Linked DNA regions of Homo sapiens. The protein of the gene in region 1 purifies or fractionates together with the protein of each later gene. This does not show direct contact. Each region holds a gene or a part of one and is shown on either strand. Other genes may lie near its edges. The genes, in order: KCTD21, PIGR, TIMM50 and ATP1A2.

Region 1 (4,041 bases):
AAAGGAAAAAGGAAACAGGGAAAGAAAGGGAAGGACCCCTAAAGCCTGGGTCCCCCGCGCCCCCCTCTGCTGCCGACATTCTATTTTAATTGGTCTGGAATACTGCCCCAGCCCTGGTATTTTGAAAGAGTTCCCTTAGTGATTCTAAATGTTCAGTTAGAATAGAGAACCACTGGTCTAAAGAAAGAAAGGAAAACGTGCCTGGACTGAAAGCTATGCTACGTGTTTATACATATATTTGCTTACATAATAGTTGTATCAGCCAGGTGCGGTGGCTCACACCTGTAATCCCAGCACTTAGGGAGGCCGAGGCGGGCAGATCACCTGAGATCAGGAGTTCAAGATCAGACTGGCCAACATGGTGAAACCCCATCTCTACTAAAAATACAAAAATTAGCTGGGCATGGTGGTGGGTGCCTGTAATCCCAGCTGTTCAGGAGGCTGGGGCAGGAGAATCATTTGAACTCAGGAGGTGGAGGTTGCAGTGAGCCGGGACTGAACAACTGCACTCCAGCCTGGACAACAAGAGTGAAACTCTGTCTCAAAAAAAAAAAAAAAAAAAAGGTTGTATCATCTTTTGACACAGACAATATAATCATCCATTCCTGTTGTGCAGATGAGGAAAACTGTGCCAGGATTCATTCCTCAAGCTCAGAAAGGTGAAGTGCCTTGCCAGGATTCAAACTCAGGTCCTTTTATATGAAAGAAAAATGTGTAAATGCTTACTAGCCAAAGATCGGTTCTAAGTACTCAACAAATGGTTTGAGATTTATGACTCCAGGCTCAGTGCTCCTCCTTCTGTACCAGTGACACTGCTGAATTTAATTATTATTCTCTCTCAAAGATTTGACAATGAATGGCCATGATTAGTGTCATTTCCATCTATCTTCAAGGCCCACAGTGGGTCACTCAGCTGTCCGGACTGCAAATGACAATCCTGTTTTTTTTAAATTTTTTTAAATTTTATTATTATTAAAGTTTTAGGGTACATGTGCACAATGTGCAGGTTAGTTACATATGTATACATGCGCCATGCTGGTGTGCTGCACCCATTAACTCGTCATTTAGCATTAGGTATATCTCCTAATGCTATCCCTCTCCCCTCCCCCTACCCCACAACAGTCCCCAGAGTGTGATGTTCCCCTTCCTGTGTCCATGTGTTCTCATTGTTCAATTCCCACCTATGAGTGAGAACATGCGGTGTTTGGTTTTTTGTCCTTGCAGTAGTCTTTACTGAGAATGATTATTTCCAATTTCATCCATGTCCCTACAAAGGACATGAACTCATCATTTTTTATGGCTGCATAGTATTCCATGGTGTATATGTGCCACATTTTCTTAATCCAGTCTATCATTGTTGGACATTTGGGTTGGTTCCAAGTCTTTGCTACTGTGAATAGTGCCGCAATAAACATACGTGTGCATGTGAATGACAATCCTTTCTAGACTTTCACTGCTCCCATGCTGACTTGCCTTGCCATGAAGATGCTCTTGGCTCCTGGTGGCCTGTCCTTTGCTGTCATAACACCCCAAGCTTCTCTGAAACTGGCTGCAAGGTCAGTGCAAATGCAGGACTCTGTCAGAGCACTCTCCTGAAGGCACCCTATCCACTCCTTAACAAAGCCCCCCTAATCTCTCAGCTGTCAGCATCTATGGCTGGCAAGTCTCCTTCACCACATGTTCTAGAAAACAGGAGATCTCAGCTCCAGCTTCCAACACTATACTTTCCCCAGAGCCAACCTGTGGACCAGATTCAGCAATCCTTCCCTGACATGGCAGGTAGGGATGCCAAGAGGAACTGGCCCCAGTATTACCCCCAGAAGAGCCTGTGCTGGTAGAGGAGATGAGAGAGTAAAGGCACAGTGACAAGACAGGTAGAAGATGTGGGAGATGGTCTGGAATGAACCTTGGCACATCAAAAACTATCTGGCTGGCAGACACAGTGGCTCATGCCTGTAATTCCAGCACTTTGGGAGGCCGAGGTGGGCAGATCGTTTGAGCTCAGGAGTTCAAGGCCAGCCTGGCCAACATGACGAAATCCTGTCTCTACAACAACAACAACAACAACAACAACAACAACAACAAAGCAGGGTGTGGTGGCGAGCACCTGTAGTCCCAACTACTTGGGAGGCTGAGGTGGGAGGATCGCTTGAGTCTGGGAGGTTGAGGCTGCAGTGAGCCGTGATTACGCCACAGAACTCCAGCCTGGCAGACAGAGGGAGATCCGGTCTCAAAAAACAAACAAAAACCCAACCTTTCAAGCATGCTTACCGTCCAGATGGAGAAACAGAGGTCTGAGGAGACACCTCCCCAAAGTCACCCAGCAGGGGTGGCGAGAACTTCTCAACATTTCTGCCTCCTGAAGAGGCTGACTGCACTGAGGCCTCCTTTCTCCAGAGGATGGGGGCCATGCCAGTGTGAGAGATATTCAGCTGCCATGCTCGACTCTGTGGCAGGGGCAGGGGTATGTCCCCTCATGATTCCTCCCCAGTCTAATGGGGCACTTTGATATTGCAGAAAGGCATTCCCCATCTGGAGTGTCTGAGGAGAAATGAGTCCATGTGAAATACGAAATCGTCAGTAGAAGCCTGGAGCAGATGGGCTGCGAGACGGTGGGGAGGTCCCACAGAGGTGTGGGCGAGCTGCCGCTGGGGGCATGGCTGCTGGTGTGGAGATGGCTGTGAGGCAGCAACTGGGGAGGGTGCTGTGACTCAGGGCTGAATCTGGCCAATTCTCTCTCCAGAGGGCCCAGGCAGGAGGTGGACCCAGGAGTGGGTCCCCTTTACTCAGTCCAGAATCTTCTTCCCTGTTGCCCTCTTTGTAGGACTCTAGTCTACTCCAACTGTTTTCTTCTGGATAGAAATGTGCATGTTCTAGTTTCAGTCTCTCTTTCTTCTTGAAAACAAACACTCCCTCCCAACATTGGGTTTCAGGCCTAGGATCTATAAAGTGGCTTACCTTCACGGCAGGAAAAGAAGCGGGTGTCAGAGAGGACTTGGACAGTTCCATGGGTCACAGACCCTTATCTCTTCCATGCATTACTGCTGAAGTGCTCAGAGCATTACAGGCGGGGGAGGTCAGGAGCCACAGGGCATTCCCTGGGACCCCTGGGTAGGTGCCCAAACTCTTATTTCTCTGCTTGCAAAAGCAGCAGAGCACCTGCTTTCCTGCGCCCCCGATGACGTCATGGCTCCCGGTCATTTGTCTGGGGAGAGCAGCACAGTTGCACAGGCAGTCAGGGCAGAGGCTGGCTAGCAGGCAGGTCTCCTGCTCCGAGTCTAGGGTGCTCTCTGTGGTGATCTCCCCTTACCTATCCAGTCACAGAGCTCAGTCCTCTAAGCCCTTCTTTTCTTTTTTTTTTTTTGAGATGGAGTCTCGCTCTGTCGCCAGGCTAGAGTGCAGTGACGCAATCTCAGCTCACTGCAACCTCTGCCTCCCAGATTCAAGCGACACTCCTGCCTCAGCCTCCCGGGTAGCTGCAATTACAGGTGCACGCCACCAGGCCCGGCTAATTTATTTTTGTATTTTTAGTAGAGATGGGATTTCACCATGTTGGCCAGGATGGTCTCGATCTCTTGACTTTGTGATCTGCCCGCCTCGGCCTCCCAAAGTGCTGGGATTACAGGCGTGAGCCACCGTGCCTGGTCTAAGCCCCTATTTTCTAGCCACAGGGCCACAGTGTCCATCATCACAAATCCACGGCCCTGCTACAAAAGGCAAAATGACATGACACGAGGGGAGTTTCATGAGTCGGCGGAGGTTTGCAGTCAGGTAGTAATGAACTAACACCACTGAGCCTCAGTCCCCTATGTGTTCCCAGATGCCTCCTGGCCACCTCCACTTGGATATTCTGCAAGTGAGGCAGGAGAACAAGGTTTGGAGACAAGGAACTTAAGGCCAATTTGTGCTAACTTCATAAAAGAGAAAACACCAAGGTCTGGGGCAAAAAATCTGAGGCCAATTCTGTTGACTTCCCAAAGCTGGATCAGAAGGAAAATCCTGGGTCTGGGGGCAGGGACCCTAAGACCAATTAACACCAAA
Region 2 (4,041 bases), on another chromosome or scaffold:
AGGCAGCTAAAGCTGAGATCCAGAGAGAAGCAGGTGACCAAAGATGCAGGGGATTCTGGTGAAAACCCAGAGCTGGATGTGGACATGGCATGCAGAGAATATAAGCCCCTTTAAAAAAAAAAAGTCACAAGCACAGATACTTGGAACTGCAAGTACTGGTTTGCTGCTTCTCACGAGGGCAACTCTATGCAGGGTGCTCTGGGATGAGAAGGAGCTGGGATTTAATTCTTTCACCATGCTGATGGCTCACTGGAGTAGGGCTGAGTGGGCCAGATGGTGCTGAAATTCACAAATAACCCTACGAAATGTGACAGTGAAACATTTAGAGGCTGGGGCACTCCTGGGAACGCATTGAGACCAAGATAAGCCAATCCTTTTTCCATCTGAATGTGAGGGATGAGGCACCCATCTTGTTCAGGGGCCAGGGGAGGGGACAGAGGACCCCTGCAGAGCCTGCCACAGCCCTGAAACACAGTCTATAAGTCCTGCCTCAATCAAGAGCTTTACTCACCTCTTGCTTGTTAAGCAGGGACAGCCATCAAAATGACTTTGATAACAGAAGAGTAATTAGGAGCTGCCATCAGGCAGAGGTTGCTTTTTCTTGCTGTCCTGTGCAGCAGCCCACGCAGCCTCCAGTTCGGGGCTGGTCATTGAGTGGATGCTGTTGGCTGATTGATGACTATTGATGAATACACTCAGAGGGAGCTGAGCTTGGCTCTCACCTGCGAGACTGCCCCACCTACTCCCCCTCCCTCTCTAGGGTCTTACCCTCATTGACGAAGAGTTGCCAGGCCTGGATAGGCGAGCCTTCCTGCAGCTGACCATCCGAATGGGCTCCACACAGGTAGCGCCCTGCATCCTCCTTCCTCAGGCCTGTGATCACCACACTGAATGAGCCATCCTTGTCCTGGGGGTTGAGCAGGATCCTGCCCTCAAAGGCTGGGGCCCTCTTCCCCAGGGTGTTGACGACCACGTCACAGTTTTCCCCACTGCTCTGTCGGCACAGAAATTTGGCCACGTTTGCCACCTCAGGGCCCAGGGCACAGTGGAAGGTCACTGAGCCCCTCAGGTCTTCATAAACCAGCTCGGGCTCGGGCTTTAGCACTTGGAGGTCAGCATTCTTCTTATTACTATTGGAATCATCCCCAGCCTGGCAGAGATACTGCCCAGCATCGCTGAGCCTGAGTTGGTTGATGACAACGCTGAACAGTAACTGGCCAGTACCCTGAATATCAAGGCGTATTCTTCCTGTATAGTTGGGATTTACATAACCACTGGAGTCGATGACCAGCACAGGGTACAGGCCTATCTGCTTGTACAAGGACTTCCTCTTTTGAGCATTCTCAGTCTTGAAAGGGCAGTTGATGGTCACCGTTCTGCCCAGGTCCACTGTGTAGACTTTAGTGTCATTTAGGAGCCCAGGACCTGCAGGATGAGGGGTGCAAGGTAGGGGGCAGGCAAGTTACGATTCTACTTTCTTGCAACATAGGACTATTTGCTATTCCTAGTTAGGGTGTGGGTGGACTTATAACCTGGAATGCCCTCCTTCCCAGAGGAATGCTGTCGGAAGGCCCAGCTTGACAGCGGTCTTCTCCATGAAACCTTTCCCAAGCTAACACTAATCTCTCCCTGCCCTGTGCTTTCTTGATACATCTGCATCACTTATTACATCCAATCTGGTGTATGGGTAATTATGTTCTCCATGGACTGGAAGTTCCTTGAAGGCTGGAACATGTTTTTCTCATGTTTGACCCCTCTGCTGTGACAAGCACAATGCCTCTGGGTAGTAGGTGGCCAAATTAATGTGTGCTGAAATGAACAGAATGAATGTAAATGCAGGGTGATGGATTTCAACGCATACAATAGAAGTTTCTAAAAATTACAAGAGTCTAAATGTGAAATGGGCTGTCTCAGGGAGCAGTGAGTTTCTGCTAAAGTGCTTAATCAGAGGCTGCATACCCGTCATCAGCATGTTCTTCTAAGTGTCCGGTTAGGGTGAACTCTAAGCCCTCTTCACCTCTAAAGATTCTGTGGTTTTGAATCTTGATCCCCACCTAAATGACCTCCTCATTTAGTCCACAGACAATAGTATGCATATTCCAAAGGAGCAAGACATGTCTTTGGGAGTCCCCCTGAATTTCTTTTCTCCGTAGACCTCTCTTTTGAGTTGCCCTTGACTATCTAAAACAGCCTCATTGTTAAACCCTTGTCAGAAAGAGCTTTTCTTTTTTTCTCTTTCTCCAACTAGAATAGGCTTGTTAGCAACCCATCCTTTCAGGATCTTGGTCTTTGGTCAAGATCTAATAATCTAATTTACCCTGATAATACCAAAAGACTAAGGGTTCCCAGGTTAAAAAAAAAATATGCATTTTACAAGAAGCCTTTTGGCGGCCCAAACCTTGATGGAAAGGTGCATTAATGATAGGAATTTAAGGATCCCTGTAAATCTCTCCCTACCTTTTCTATCTCCTTAGCCTGATGTCAGATTTCCCTTTCTACCTGTAGCAAACACCAGAAAACTTGTCCTTCTGATACCCTTCTAAGCTGGGGTCTCCAGAAAGCCTAAAATGTTATAGGCCACCAAGTCCTAGAAGGGTTCACTCATCACCCCCAAGTAGGCCCTATCTGTCTCCTTCTCCTGTTAAAGAAGTCTTTGCCTGGGGAAAGGGGTGCCTTCTGACCCCCAACCCGGCTACACATCCTTGTCAGGAAGTTCCTCCTCAAGCCCTCCATGCACCTTAGAGAATTCCCTCTAACTTTCCCCCAGAAGCCCAAGGAGCTTGGATCCTTACCCTGGCTGACCTCCAGGCTGACATCAAAGGACAGGCCTCGGCTATTGATGCCCAGGCCACACTTGTAGCGCCCGGAGTCATCCTGGCTCAGCTGGGCAATGTTCACCACAAATGTGCCGTTCTCCGGGAAGTTGGTGAGGTTAGCCCTGCCTGCATATTTGCTGGAGACGTAGCCCTCCGAGGAGATGAGGGTTATGCAGCCACCTCTAGCTCCCTGCCGGCACCAGTACTTCCGGGTGTGCCGGTTGACAGAGGTGGGTGGGTAGTAGCACGTGATGGACACTGAGTTACCTTCCACACTATTCACCTCCTCGGGACCAAATATGGGACTCTTCGTGGAGATGGCTGTGGGAACAGAAGAGAGAGGCTTTCTGAGGCCCTTGGGAGGTAAAGCCTGTTCCAGATAACCCACTATGAGTAGATGTGGTTTTCTACCTGACACGTAGGCCCTGTGTTGATAATTTATCATATATCACAGCTGGAAAATTGCTGAGATTAAATAAAGTGACTGTTTTAATCATGATTAAATTGGAATTGTTATTCATTAATGATAACCATTTCAAGGACAAGGGAATGACAAATTTATGATAACCCTTGTTTTTTATTTTATATATTTTTATTGTTTTGAGACAAAGTCTCTCTCTGTCGCCCAGGCTGGTGTGCAGTGGCACGATCTCGGCTCACTGCAACCTCCGCTTCCCAGGTTCAAGCGATTCTCATGCCTCAGCCTCCCAAGTAGTTGGGACTACAGGTGCATGCTAGCTAATTTTGGTTTCTATTTAGTAGAGACAAGGTTTCTCCATGTTGGCCAGGCTGGTCTTGAGCTACTGACCTCAAGCAATCCACCCTCCTTGGCCTCCCAAAGTGCTGGCATTACAGCTGTGAGCCAGCATCCAGCCATCCATTGTTTTTTCAAACAATAACACCACTTTCGTAAGGTGTTACATGTTTGCACTTGCCATGTGTTATTTCCTTATATTTCTAAAAGCACTTTGTAGATGATTTTCTTTTCTTTTTTTTCCCCCAGATAAAAATATTGAGAGCCAGAAAGGATAAGTGACTTCCCTCAGATTTCACAGCGGGTCATAGAGATGCTTGGTTGAAGTTAAGGTCTTTGTTATTCTCAAAGAAGATCTTTCACAGACCCCTGGCCTTGAGATTAGGAAGTGCCATTCCTGTCCCTGACTTCCAATGCTCACAGATGTGGCCTTTCAGTGTCTTCTCTGTATGACTCTTCCTCAAGGAAGTG
Region 3 (4,041 bases), on another chromosome or scaffold:
GAGCGAAACTCCGTCTCAAAAAAAAAAAACAAAGGTTTATGTGGCCACTGGCTACTGTACTGGACAGTACAGACCTAGAACATGAACCAAACATCACAGAAAGTTCCAGTGGAGAACACTGCTACATATCTGCCTGTTTTAGTTAGAAGCCAACATTTTATTTTTATTTTATTTTATTTTTTGAGATGGAGTTTCGCTGCTGTTGCCCAGGCTGGAGTGCAATGGTGCGATCTCGGCTCACCACAACCTCCGCCTCCCAGGTTCAAGCAATTCTCCTGCCTCAGCCTCCTGAGTAGCTGGGATCACAGGCATGCTCCACCACGCCCAGCTAATTTTGTATTTTTAGTAGAGATGGGGTTTCTCCATGTTGAGGCTGGTCTTGAACTCCTGACCTCAGGTGATCCACCCACCTCAGCCTCCCAAAGTGCTGGGATTACAGGCGTGAGCCACTGCGCCCCGCTAGGAGCCAACATTTTAAAATAGGGAGATTTAATATAAAAATCCCTATTTTAGCTGGGCACAGTAGCTCACACCTGGAATCCTAGCGCTTTGGGAGGCCAAAGCAGGAAGATTGCTTAAGACTAGGAGTTTGAGACCAGCTTGGGCACCAAGACCCCATCTCTACAAAAAAAAAATTTGTTTAAATTAGCTGGGTATGGTAGCACGCACCTGTAGTCCCCAGGAGGGTACTCAGGAGGCTGAGGCAGGAGGGTCACTTGGAGATCACTTGAGCCGGGAGGTCAAGGCTGTTGTAAGCTAAGATCACATCAATGCACTCCAGCCTGGGCAACAGTGAGACCCTGTCTCAAAAAAAAAAAAAAAATATTCCCAAGTTCTTGCTTCTTTTGAACAACTGGCGTGTCAAGCAACTCCAGGCCCCCTTTACCCCAGGGCCACACTGGCTGGAGCCAACCAGCAGCTGGCCTGTTGAGAGGGGTAATCTCTGGTCCACCAGAGGCCCACTAGGCCCATAACACATTCTCTCCACAGTAGCCTGGCAGCTACCTGTCTTTAAAGCCAAGTGCCATCCTCTCTTCCCTTCTCCACAGATGAGGAGTCTGTGGTCAGAGGGAGATGTATTTTTCACAGATCACGCAACACACAGGAAGACACAGCGAGGGTTTTTAGATTCCGAGACCAGGGTGAAAAATCTGCTCTGATCCAACAAAGCACCCCCACTGTGCTTGGCAGCCGATCAGCCACTGTGGGACGATGACCCAAGAGTCCCGGACCTCACCCTGATGCCCCCATCTGGAGACTCTCGGGACACAGCAGGTGTGGCGTCTGGGATGTACTTTATTGGACAAGTGGTGGCCCAAGTCTTGGTCTGGAAGCACTGGGGCCCTGGACCCAGGCACTGAGTTTGAGGAGGCCCAGAGTTCAGGGCTGTTTGGAGCGAGGCCACAAGCGGCTGGTGAGGGAGCCAAGGAAGAGGTTCTGCTTGTTGGACTTGGAGAGCTCGGCCAGGCGCTGCTGCTCCTCCTGGGGTAGGGGGACAGTTGGAGGAGAGGGTCAGCGCAAGGTGGACAGAGCCTCCTCCCAGATGCCCAGGTCCCCAGGCCTCAGCCCAGGGACCACCTTTCCTTCTGACTTCTGCCAAGTCCAGACCCCTTTCCCCAAACCCTGGGGCCCCCAGCCCAGACACAAGGGACCCTAGACCCCAGTCCCCCCACCCCAGACACTAGGAAGAGCCAGCTCTGAGCCGCAGGAGCCTAGGCTTCAATGTTTGGGGGACGACAGACTCCAATACTAGGCACTCGAGGTATTCAGGCCTGAACTGCAGTAGGTTCTCAGGCCCCAGACTGTCATAATCTCCTTCCCCAGATCCCAGGGACCCCTCCCCTGAGCCTGAGATCCTATCGCAGACCCTGTTACCCCAAGGTGAATGCTGGTGAGATCCCAGGTCCAAACCCCATGGCCCTCCTCACCAGACTGCATCATCCTGCCCCTGGGCCCTCTGAGCCCCATGACCCCTCTCTGGATGCAGGGGTGGGGGGTTCCCTGGGGGGTCCCCAGGCCCAAATCTCTAGGGACTTCTCTGGGCACTCAGGGGCTCCCAACTCTAGGAACCTAACCTAGAATCTGGTGAACCTCAGCCTAGACCCCTGGGAATCTTACCCAGACGCAATCCATACTCTCAGTCCCACTTCCAAATTACCAGGGTCCCACCAAGACTATCACATCTCTCCCCACAGCCTTGGGCCACGTGCCCAGGGAGCCTCTTTCCAGGCCTGATCTAAAACCCACAATCCACCTCCACAAGGTGCCCCCAGACCTACTCAAGACCATCAAGGGCAACCCCTCTCCCAGCCTAATCTCAAATCCTCTCCTGTTTCCTGTTCTCAGAGCAGGCTGCAGAATCAATGCATCCCCTCATTCTGGCAGCCCTACAGGACAGGCTGTGTTATATCCCCCTGGTTACAGAGACTGAGGCAGAGAGGAGGTATCTGCTCAGGGTCACACAGCCAAACCAAGAGTGTGGAGATGGACTGCCCCAGGCTCCTCCTTCAGGAGCCTCAGAGCCGATCCTCCACTCTGGGCATCTGAGCACCAACCTGCTCTAGCCGGCTTTGCCGCTGTTTGAAAGCCGCCAGCGGGTCATCCTCCAGGGCATAGTGCTCCAGCACGGTTCGCACGTCCTCCACACCATTCAGTGCAATGGCTGTGGGCACAACAGGGGGTGGTCAGCCAGGCTTCTAAAGGCCAGAGGGAGGCAGGGCCCATGAGGGGAACGTCCCGCACTGGGGCACGGGGGCAGTCAGTGCTACCTGGAATGCTTCTGAACGCTCTGAAAGGGCTCCCCTGAACATCCCCAAGTATCCCCCAAACATTCCATGAACATCCTAAGAAGCTCCTAAAGACTCCAAGGTGCTCAGGCACCTCTTGCACCTCAGTCGCCCAGCCATGAATCATGCATTTATCCTTCCTCTTCAGAGTCAGGGGCTCTGGGGTCAGAGGCCAAGGGATCAGGGGTCAGCCTTACTCTTGAGGAAGGCAGACAGATCCAACAAGACCCGGTCATCAGAGTTGCCGTCCCAGGGCCGCAGGGCAACGCCGTTATAGGGCTGCAGGCGGAAGGCTTCCTTCTTGCAGTCCACAACTACTACTCGAGCTGGGTCCCGATTCAGACATGAAATATCCTGGAAGTGAGTGACAGATCAGGTCAACATCTGTGCCCAACTCTCCCCCCATCAAGAAGACCCAAAACACACAAAACATACATACATACACAGCATCACACATACTGGGATCACAATGGCAGGGCCTCTCAAAGACCGGCTTTGGATGATGGCATCGACCCCCACAGAGGGCCAGGCATGGTGGCTCACGCCTGTAATCCCAGCACTTTGGGAGGCCGAGGCGGGCGGATCACCTGAGGTCAGGAGTTCAAGACCAGCCTGGCTAAAATGGTGAAACCCCGTATCTACTAAATACAAAAAATGGCCGGGTGCGGTGGCTCACGACCGTACTCCCAGAATTTTGGGAGGCCAAGGTGGGCAGATTGCCTGAGCTCAGGAGTTCAAAACCAGCCTGGGCAACATGGCGAAACTCTGTCTCTACTAAAAATACAAAAAATTAGCTGGGTGTGGTGGTGTGTGCTTGTAGTCCCAGCTACTCGGGAGGCTGAGGAAAGAGAATCGCTTGAACCTGGGAGGGGGAGGTTGCAGTGAACCAAGATCGCGCCACTGCACTCCAGCCTAGGCAACAGAGCGAGACTCCGTCTCACAAAAAAAATAAATAAATAAAAATAAAAATAAAAATTAGCCAGGCATGGTGGTGTGTGCCTATAGGCCCAGCTACTCAGGAGGCTGAGGTGGGAAGATCGCTTGAGCCCAGAAGGTTGAGACTGCAGTGAGCCATGTTCATCACACCACTGCACTCCAGCCTGGGTGACAGAGCAAAACCCTGTCTCAGAAACAAAAAACAAAACAACCCCCAGGATATTGGGGAGCTAATCACATAGACTTCTAGACCCAGGGCCTAGCACACAGAGAGGTGATTAGGAAGTTCCCTGGAGAGGGAGGTGGCCACTCTCGTGTT
Region 4 (4,041 bases), on another chromosome or scaffold:
CCAAGGAGATGGCAGGGACCTGTGTGGGGTAGGAAATGGGGCAGGGAGGGCATTTGAAGGGACGTAGGAGATGACAGAAGCAATTGATCTTCGACAGTGACGATCGTTGACACAGTTAAAAAAGCGTGTATTCAGACCCCATTGTCTTCCAGGCCTGTGCCTGTCTCCTGTAACCCCCACAGCTGGGGCCACTGCCCCAGTGCACCTCTCCTCCCTGCCACTGTGCCATCACGATTGCCTTGCCTGTCCCCTCCTCCACCTCCTGCGCTCACCATATCTGTGCCCAGGTCAATGCAAAGGATGGTCACAGTGCCCAGAGGTAGGGGGATGTTGGCAATGATGAACAGCAGGAAGGGGGTGATCTCGGGGATGTTGCTGGTCAGGGTGTAGGCGATGGATTTCTTCAAGTTGTCAAAGATCAGGCGGCCTGTGGGGAGATTCTGAGGGCATCAGGGAGGTCAGAGGGACTCTTCCCCACCCCCAGCCCCTGAAGCATGGCTGCCTGTCTTCCCAAGAGAGGAAGATTTTGTGTTCAAGGGAAGCTAAAGTGGGCTGGGCTGCCTAGAGTTGTGGAATGATTCTTCAACTGGGGTAAAGGGACAGGGAACAGAGGTGCCGGCTTCAGTATCCTGCAAACCATCCCAACCCATGCAGCCTCCTCACCCTCCTCCACCCCCGTGACGATGGAGGCAAAGTTGTCATCCAGCAGGATCATGTCGGCTGCCTGCTTAGAGACGTCAGAGCCAGAGATGCCCATGGCAATGCCAATGTCAGCCTTCTTCAATGCAGGGGAGTCGTTCACCCCGTCACCCGTCACGGCCACAATGGCTCCCTGGAGGGAAGACGGCCACACTTGAGGACGAAACCCCTTCCCAAGCCTGGCTCCTCGCCTCTCACTCCATGCTTGTCTTGGCCCTGTCCCTGCCTCCCCGGTCCCTGCCTGTCATCTGCCTCCCGTGGCTGTGCTCACCTGCCTCTGACATCCCTCCACAATGATGAGCTTCTGCTGGGGAGACGTTCGAGCAAAGACGATCTCTGTGTGGTTCTTGAGGATCTCATCGAGCTGCTCCGATGTCATGTCCTTCAGGTCAGAGCCGTGCACCACGCATGCCTTGGCTTCTCTGGAGGGTGGGTGGGGACAGAGACAGCTGACCCCTGGCACCTGTACCAGCCCCTCCTGCCCCCTGCCTCTCTTCACCACCGCAGCCTGCAGGCTCCCTGCTGAGCCTGCTTCCCCTGTTGCTTCAGTTCTCCTCTCCTCAGTACTCACTTCCCCCATTTCTCTTTGAGAATGTGAGTCTAAATCCTCACCATGGGATCATCGCAGTTGTAAGTGCAGTTTGCTAGGCCCTGGGCTAGTTTCTTTACTCACATCCCACTCCTACAGCAGTGGAGATGGCATCCTAATTTTGTGGTGAGAAAATGGAGGCTCAGGAAGGGAATGTGACATCTCCAAGGTTACATGGGTATTCAGTGGCACAGCCTGGATACAAGCTCAGGGCTGAGGAACCAGTCACAATAGTGTCAGAGGTAAGGCCTATAAAGGTCCCAGAAATGCTATCCAAATACTCCCAGGGGACACCCAAGCCTTCTGTGCAAGAGGACGTGTTGATTAGGGCACAGGGGCTTCCTGCAGAGGCCTCACCTGGGGTTGACTTGACTCATGGGAATGTTGAGCCGGGCTGCAATGTCCTCCACAGTCTCGTTACCCTCTGATATGATGCCCACGCCTTTGGCAATGGCCTTGGCTGTGATAGGGTGATCCCCGGTTACCATGATCACCTAGTGGGAAGGAGAGGAGACAACAGGAAAGTAGTATTAAGGGTTTATCCCCCTCCTGTTCCTCTCCCAAAGTAAGAGAAAGCTAGATAGCGAGATGTCTGGGGATGGCAGATCCCAACCGAAATAAGGGCATGTGTGTGTGCGTCTGTGGGCAGGGGAGTGGCTGGGGTGGGGTGTATGTGTGTGTGTGTATGTGTGTGTGTGTGGGGTGTGTGTATGTGTGTGTAGGATGTGTGTGTGTGTGTGTGGGTGGGGATTGTGTGTGTGTGAGGGGGTGGGGATTGTGTGTGTGTGTGAGAGGGAATGTGTGTGTGTGGGATGTGTGTGTGTGTGTGGGGTATGTGTGTGTGTGTGTATGTGGGGTGGGGATTTGTGTATGTGTGCGTGTGTGTGAGATGTGTGTGTGGGGGGTGGGGATTGTGTGTGTCTATGTGTGTGTGTGGGATGTGTGTGTATGTGAGGTGGGGATTTGTGTGTGTCTGTGTGAATTTGAGTGGGTGGGTGAGGAGGAAAGATAATGGCAAGTTGAGTTATGTTCAGAGGGTTAGAGAGAGATAGTTTGCTTAAGTGCAGGAAAGTATCCATAACAGAGTAACAAGTTCATGAGGATCCCCTGGAAGAGAAGCCTCAAATCTTTAGGATTATTTAGGAGATATTTTAGGATTTTGGATTTCATGGGATTCAAGGCAGTCAGAGCTGGAAGGACCCTTTAACAACTCCTTTATTTTACACATGAGGAAACCAAGGCTTAGAGAGGGGCTACAATTTGCTCAAATGCACAGGGACCTGGATATAGGACATGAGGTTCTTAGTGTCAAATATTGATCACTGCAGCAATGTAATGGACAGAACAGGAATAAGATGGAGACAACACCCCTGCCTCCACCACCTTGAGCATCTGCCTCTGACATCCTCCCTGGTGAGCACGGTGGTCCCTACCTTCACCATAATGTTCATTGCTATTGTTGCAGAGTGAATGGAGTTGGGATGGGGAGGGTGGCTGGCATCTGATGGGCTAAGAGGCTATGAGGTGAGCAGAGTTGGGTTAGGATAGCATTTGCATGTGTGGGCTTGCAGGGCAAGTCCTATGGATACTGAAAAGGAAGCCTCCATGGTCCCCACTGCCTTATCTTCCACTCCCACCACTTCACTGAAACTGCCACCCAAAGGCCACAGGGGCCTCTCAATTGAAAAATGAAAAGTGTCTTTGCCGTCCTCATCCTACTTGACCCCTCTGAGGCATTTGGCACCGTTGACCTCTTCTCCTTGAAACCCTGCCCTCCCCTGGCTTCCACATACTCCTCCATTCCTGTTTTCCCTCCACTCCTCTGCATGCTCTTTCCCAGCCTCTCAGGGTGGCAGCCTAGTAGGATGGAAGAAGCAGTGGCTTTGGAGTTGAATGAGGGGCTCAAGTTTAAACACCGACCTTCTCCAGCTACAGCACCTTAGGCAAGTGAAGCACTGAGGTCTCAGCACAATGCAGAGATGATTCCTGCCTTTCTAGGTGGTCATGAAGATTAAATGGCATTGGTTCCTACCACCCTCTCCCCTCCTCACTGGTTCCTCTTGTGCCTAAATGTTGGTTTGGCACAGGATTTCATTCTCCTCCCTTCACTTGACCTGTCTGCTCTTTCTGGGCAATATAATACAACATACTATAAGCCTTTAGTTTGCACCCTTGTGCTAATGAGATTCAAATCTCCAGTCCTGACCATCTTTCATGAGCTCTAAACCATACTCCAATGTTCACTGGAACATCTGTCTTTCCTGGGGTATCTTATAGACTCTTTAAGCTTAAGGTCAACATTGAACTCCTTTTCTCTACTCCTGCCACCCCACCAAGCCTGCTACTGCTCCCTACCTTAGATGTTGTCCTCTCTATTCATCCTGTCCCCTTCTCTCCTGTATCTTCCTCACCTTCCATATCCAGTTTGGTCACCAAGTTCTCAAAACATTTCTCAGACATGGCTATTCCTCTCCATTCCCTTTGTTTCTGCCCTAGTTCAGGTCATCATTCTTTGCCTGAACTATGGCAATGGCCTCTTAACCTGTCTCTCCCTGACTCCAGTTCTTCCCCAAATCCAGTCCCTCCTCAAACCAGGTAGTCTCCTAAAAGCTCAACCTCCCCCGTGACACTGATGGCTCTCTGTGGCCTGCAGGATAAAGCCCAAGTCTGGCATTTAAGCCAAGTCCTTCCAACTGGCTCTGACCCAGTGTTCCAGTCTCAACCCCCAGTACTCCTTGCCACCTCTCCCCTGC

Evidence for each region.
Region 2: the proteins of KCTD21 (region 1) and PIGR purify together in Homo sapiens (affinity purification with mass spectrometry, with the first as the bait; one large-scale study listed by BioGRID). This does not show direct contact.
Region 3: the proteins of KCTD21 (region 1) and TIMM50 purify together in Homo sapiens (affinity purification with mass spectrometry, with the first as the bait; one large-scale study listed by BioGRID). This does not show direct contact.
Region 4: the proteins of KCTD21 (region 1) and ATP1A2 purify together in Homo sapiens (affinity purification with mass spectrometry, with the first as the bait; one large-scale study listed by BioGRID). This does not show direct contact.

The regions. Positions count from the first base shown.
Region 1 is NC_000011.10:78,174,781-78,178,821, forward strand, and holds part of KCTD21 (BTB/POZ domain-containing protein KCTD21), read right to left. Parts: intron 3,206-4,041; exon of another isoform or gene 2,351-3,205; coding exon of another isoform or gene 2,272-2,350; intron 1-2,271. UniProt on the Homo sapiens protein: Probable substrate-specific adapter of a BCR (BTB-CUL3-RBX1) E3 ubiquitin-protein ligase complex mediating the ubiquitination and subsequent proteasomal degradation of target proteins. Promotes the ubiquitination of HDAC1.
Region 2 is NC_000001.11:206,936,327-206,940,367, forward strand, and holds part of PIGR (polymeric immunoglobulin receptor precursor), read right to left. Parts: intron 3,138-4,041; coding exon 2,793-3,137; intron 1,426-2,792; coding exon 769-1,425; intron 1-768.
Region 3 is NC_000019.10:39,487,160-39,491,200, reverse strand, and holds part of TIMM50 (mitochondrial import inner membrane translocase subunit TIM50), read right to left. Parts: intron 3,141-4,041; coding exon 2,984-3,140; intron 2,663-2,983; coding exon 2,556-2,662; intron 1,483-2,555; coding exon 1,381-1,482; 3' UTR 1-1,380. UniProt on the Homo sapiens protein: Essential component of the TIM23 complex, a complex that mediates the translocation of transit peptide-containing proteins across the mitochondrial inner membrane. Has some phosphatase activity in vitro; however such activity may not be relevant in vivo.
Region 4 is NC_000001.11:160,132,225-160,136,265, reverse strand, and holds part of ATP1A2 (sodium/potassium-transporting ATPase subunit alpha-2 precursor), read right to left. Parts: intron 1,783-4,041; coding exon 1,646-1,782; intron 1,122-1,645; coding exon 971-1,121; intron 833-970; coding exon 664-832; intron 428-663; coding exon 273-427; intron 20-272; coding exon 1-19. UniProt on the Homo sapiens protein: This is the catalytic component of the active enzyme, which catalyzes the hydrolysis of ATP coupled with the exchange of sodium and potassium ions across the plasma membrane.